Linked DNA regions of Homo sapiens: region 2 is linked to region 1. Evidence: fine-mapped expression QTL. A gene starts in region 1. The other region holds a variant in brackets. All regions are shown on one strand. Distances are between the middles of the regions.

Evidence for each region. PIP is the estimated chance that this variant, and not a neighbour inherited with it, causes the effect.
Region 2: its variant is fine-mapped to the expression of SYCN in fibroblasts (GTEx, PIP 0.96).

What each region holds. Positions count from the first base shown.
Region 1 is chr19:39,203,222-39,206,031 of GRCh38, reverse strand. SYCN (syncollin) reads left to right here and starts at 1,769. Exons shown (of 2, transcript NM_001080468.4): 1 at 1,769-2,172. The coding sequence starts at 1,778.
Region 2 is chr19:38,223,187-38,225,957 of GRCh38, reverse strand. It overlaps DPF1 (double PHD fingers 1), which reads left to right and starts at 1,736. Exons shown (of 12, transcript NM_001135155.3): 1 at 1,736-1,844. The coding sequence starts at 1,816. RefSeq lists a silencer at 1,402-1,971. The variant C/T (reference allele first, on the strand shown) is at 1,276.

The DNA.
Region 1 (2,810 bases):
CCTCTGCCTCCTCGGTTCAAGCAATTCTCCTGCCTCAGCTTCCCGAGGCTCTGTGTGTCACCGTGCCCAGCTAACTTTTGTATTTTTAGTAGAGACAGGGTTTCACTATGTTGGCCAGGCGGGTCTCGAACTCCTGACCTCAAGTGATCCACTCACCTGGGCCTTCCAAAGTGCTGGGACTACAGGCGTGAGCCACTGCTCCCGGCCCTTGTTTCATTTCTATTGGCTGATTGGTAAGAGCTCATTTTATATGATAGGAATTGAGTCTATTTTTCCCTGGATGGGTTTGTGGGTTTTGTTTTGTTTTTGCTATATGACAGTTTTTACAGTTTTATACAGCTCAAAATCTATAAAACAAGATTGAAGTTTTATAGATTGAAGATTTCCAACCTTAGTTAAGAAAGTCTCCTGGCTCCTGGGGTGGGAGTTGCAGGCTGTTCCCTCCCTCTCCCTCTCCTAGGCCTGTCCTTAGCATGTGGGAGGGAGGAGTGCATTTCTTGTCAATTTGTATGCACTCTTTTTTTTTGACGCGATCTCGGCTCACTGCAACTTCCACCTTCTGGGTTCAAGTGATTCTCATCCCTCAGCCTCCCGAGTAGCTGGGACTACAGGCATGTGCCACCACGCCTGGCTAATTTTTGTACTTTAAGTAGAGACGGGGTTTCATCATGTTGGCCAGGCTGGTCTCGAACTCCTGGCCTCAAATGATCCACCTGCCTCAGTCTCCCAAAGTATTGTGATTACAGGCGTGAGTCACCGCGCCCAACCTGTGTGCACTCTTTATATATTATAGCTTGCAATGCTATGCTTTTGAAATGTTGCAAATATCTCCTCAAGCCTTTGTACACTGTCTTGCAAAAGGTTTTTAACGTGTTATGCAAATACTGCTATCTTGTACTTCACAGATTCTGGATTGCCAGCCTTGGTTGGGAAGATTGCCCAGTCTGAGCCTGGTGGGGGTGGGGGGTGGGGCGTTGGGCTCCTCCCCATCTCCTTCTCTACCTGCCCCCCCCCGCCCCACCACGAGGGCCTCTATCCTTATCTCCAGCTTCTCCTTTCCCAAGGTCCTGCCTCCCAGGGAGGGAGCCTGCCCAGCCAGGAGGCCCCAGCCTCCCACTCCTGCCTCCCCCTCCCAGTCTTTCCTTATTTAGAATAAGGGTTGTTCCATTCCTTATCTTTTTTTTCCTGTCTTTGTTGCCCAGGCTGGAGTGCAGTGAAACGATCTCGGCTCACTGCAGCCTCGAACTCCCGGGCTCAAGCGATCCTTCCGCCTCTGCTTTGTGAGTAGATGGGACTACAGGCCATGCCACCACGCTGAGCTAATTTTATTTTTCAGTAGGGATGGGATCTTGCTATGTTGCCCAGACTGGTCTCAAACTCCTGGGCCCAAGCGATCCACCCGTCTAGGCCTCCCAAAGTGCTGGGATTACAGGCGTGAGCAACCAGCAAGCCCCTTGTCAATTTTTAAGAGCTCTTCCCATTTCTGTCTATTAACCTATGCCACCCTCTGTGTTGCAAATGACTCCTCCTCAAGTTCTGTCTATTGTCTCTCTTTATAATGTTGTTGGTCACCTAACATCTTAAGGTGCTAAGTTGTATACACAGCGTCCACCTTGTACTCAGGGTTGTGGGCTTCCGACCTAGGTTAGGCAGGTCTCCCGGCTCCTGAGGGAGGGGCGCCCTCCCCTTCCCTCGATGAGTCCTTATCTCGCAGCTTGTCCCTTCCCACGGGTCGGGCGCATAAAAGCGCGCGGGGCTGCGGCAGGGCACTGCCACCATGTCCCCGCTGCGCCCGCTGCTGCTGGCCCTGGCCCTTGCCTCCGTGCCTTGCGCCCAGGGCGCCTGCCCCGCCTCCGCCGACCTCAAGCACTCGGACGGGACGCGCACTTGCGCCAAGCTCTATGACAAGAGCGACCCCTACTATGAGAACTGCTGCGGGGGCGCCGAGCTGTCGCTGGAGTCGGGCGCAGACCTGCCCTACCTGCCCTCCAACTGGGCCAACACCGCCTCCTCACTTGTGGTGGCCCCGCGCTGCGAGCTCACCGTGTGGTCCCGGCAAGGCAAGGCGGGCAAGACGCACAAGTTCTCTGCCGGCACCTACCCGCGCCTGGAGGAGTACCGCCGGGGCATCTTAGGAGACTGGTCCAACGCTATCTCCGCGCTCTACTGCAGGTGCCCGGCCGCCCAAAGCTCCGAGCCCACCCCAGGCCCAGGCCCCAGCTCCGCATAAGCCCCCACACCCACCACCCAAGCCCCGAGGCTGCTCCACACCCCTGAGCTCCCGACTGTAACAGGGAGCACCAGGCCTCCCTAGAACCAGTCCTGGAGGCCCCCATCTCAGAGTCCTCACCCAAACCAGGTCCTCCTTCTCCTCACCCCCAGCACCCGGTCCCCACTCCACCTGCAGCCCAGGCCCCTGGGACGGAGATTTCCGCCCCAGCTCTGAGATTCAGAGCCAACCCTCCACCTTCTGGAATCTTCCGCCTACCCACCCGCCCACAGCTGTACTTCCCAGAGAGGGCTGGCTAATTCTGGGGACTGAGAGCTCCTAGACCCCCTCACCCTGGAGTCCCCAGAACCAAAGCCAGCCCCCACTCCCCAGATCATCACATCTCAAAGCTCCCAGACTCCAAAACTAACCCAGACCTCAAGACTCCAGACTCGATTATAGGAACACCCAGTGTAGCCTTCATGCTCTCCACTCCCCTAGACCCTCCAGACCAGCCTCAGCCCTAAAATCAGTCCCACAGCCCACCCCCAAGACCCAACCCTGGAGGTCCCTGAGGCCACCTTGCACTCACAGACCTGGG
Region 2 (2,771 bases), 980 kb after region 1:
AGCACATGATGGGTGCATTTACTCATTCAACAAATATCTACTGAGCATCTATTTTTTTTTTTTTTTTTGGAGACAGGGTCTTGCTCAGTTGTCCAGGCTGGAGTGTAGTGGTGTGATCATAGCTCACTGCAGCTTCGATCTCCTGGGTTCAACCAATCCTCCTGACTCAGCCTCCTGAGTAGCTGGGACCATAGGCATGTGCCACCATGCCCAGCTATTTATTTTTTTTTTAGTAGAGACCAGGTCTCGCTATGTTGCCCAGGCTGTTCTCCTGAGCTCAAGCGGTCCTCTCATCTCAGCCTCCCAGATTGCTGGGATTACAGGCATGAGTCACGGCGCCCTGCTTACTTAGTTTTTTGTTTGTTTGTTTGTTTGTTTGTTTGCTTTTAGAGACAGAGTCTCGCTCTGCCACCCAGGCTGGAGTGCAGTGGTGAGACCACAGCTCACTGCAGCCTCAGCCTCCCAGGTTCAAGCTATCCTCCCACTTTAGCCTTGCAAGTAGCTGGGACTACACTGCTGCGCCATCATGCCCAGCTAATTTTAATTTTTTTTTGTAGACACAGGGGTCTGGATATGTTGCCCAGGTTGGTCTCAAACTCCTGGGCTCAAGCAGTGCTCTCATCTAGGCCTCCCGAAGTACTGGGATTGCAGACTGGAGCCATCGCACCTGGCCGCATTATTCTTTCTTTCTTATTATTTATTTATTTATTTTTGAGAGGGAGTCTCACTCTTGTTGCCCAGGCTGGAGTGCAATGGCACGATCTCAGCTCACTGCAACCTCCACCTCCTGAGTTCAAGTGATTCTCCTGCCTCAGCCTCCTGAGTGGGGGAGTATAAGCATGCGCCACCATGCCCGGCTAATTTTGTATTTTTAGTAGAGACTACTACCATGTTGGCCAGGCTGGTCTCGAACTCCCATCCTCAGGTGATCCACCTGCCTGGGCCTCCCAAAGTGCCGGGATTACAGGTGTGAGCCACTGCGCCTGGCCTGCCAGTCACCTCTTAAAATGCTTTACCTATATTTACTCATTTAATCCTCACAACACTCCAGTGAGGCATCATCCTCTTTTTACAGATGAGGAAACTGAGGCCCAGAAAGGTTAAGTCATTTGCCAAGGTCACATGGCCACCAAGTGGCAGAGCTAGGATTTGAACCCTGGAGGTGTGACTACTGTTTCTAACCTGCACTGCTGCTGTCAGGCCTGCAGAAGGCGTTGAGCAGGGCGGGGTGACCGTGAGCGTGGCTGCTGGGAGAGACAGCCCCGGGTGGGGTCT[C/T]TGGAGCCAGGAGGGACTTGGGTGGGGGGCGGTGAGGGGGTGTCTGCTGGAAGCATGTTGGTGAGAAGTCTGTGTGGGCACCTGGGAGGTGTCTCTGCGTCTCTTAGTATTGCAGTGTGTGTGCGTGTGGCTGTGTGAGTCCGTGCGAAGGTGTGTGAGTAGGAGTGTGTGGGAGGCTGTGAGTATCCGCGTGAATGTGTGTGTAAACTGCCATGCGTGGGCGTGTGCGAGTCCAGGTGTGCATGTGGTTGTGTGCACGCGAGAGCAGGATATGTGGACGAGTGAGGGCGGGTGAGTGACGGTGCGTGCCCCGGGCCCCTCCTCCGCGCCGTCCCGTCCCCGCGGGGTCCCGGGGGCCCCCTGGCCTGGGACTACCACTCCCAGCATGGCCCGGGCGGGCCCGCCCCGTCGCCGCGATTGGCCGTGGCCCTCGTGCTCCCGCCCCCCGGGAATGAATGGATGGGCGGCCTCAGCGCCCGCCCGACCGCTGGGAGGACCGACCCGGCGGGGACCTGCTGGGGGCAGGACCCGGGGAGCAAGATGGCCACTGTCATCCCTGGCCCCCTGAGGTGGTGCGGGCCGGCGGGAGGCGGAGAGGAAGCGCGGGCGGGTCTACGCGGGCCTGTGTGTGTGTGGCGACCGGGGGTGGGGCCGAAGGGGTGTCTGGGGGGCTGTCACCGAGTGCGGGGCTGCGCGGGGGTGCGAGAGTGTGTGACTGTGGGTCTCTGACAAGAATGGTGTCGGATGCACCGCTCCCTGGCGGGGTGGAGGGCGTGGGGGGCCTCCAGATTCTTTTTGGGGAAGGGAGACATCATCCCTTCCCTGCAACCCTCGGGTCTGGGAGAGACTGAAATGACCCGGGGGTGCGGGGGCCTTGGCAACTGGAGTGAAGTCCACACTACCTTTGTCTTGGGATGTGGAGTGTGTGTGTGTATCACTTATTTGTGTTCTGGTTTTTTTAAGAATTTTTGGGGGATAGGTGTGTGGACATGTGTCTGTTTCCTTTTATTCTGCACTAGATATCTTTGGATATTTGGGTCTCCCAGTGTGTGTCCGTGTCCTTTGGAACTATATGTCATTTGTCTTGTGTTCTGTGTTTTTGGGTATGTAGGGCTGCGTGTATTTGTGTGTAAATTTTTGTGTGACTATGGGTGGATTTGGCTGTTTCTGTGTTTTATATGTGTGTGTGTCTGTGTGGATGTGTGATATTTTAGATACTGGTTGCGCATCGTGCATCTTTGTAAATGTGTGTGTGTACCTGTGTGAATCTGTGTGATTTCTTTGTGTTGTGTGTCTGGATATTGTGTGTGTGGTTTGTGTTGTGTCTTTGGATACATGGGTAAGTGCCTAGGGGCGCAAGTGGTTTCTGTAGTTCCTGTCTTTTGACATGCTTGTGTCTTTGGATGCATGAGGGGGTGTATGTGTGTGTGGTGTGATGTTTCCATGTTGTGTGTCTTTGTGTGGGTGATGTGTTTCTGGTGTGTGTCTGTGGATAT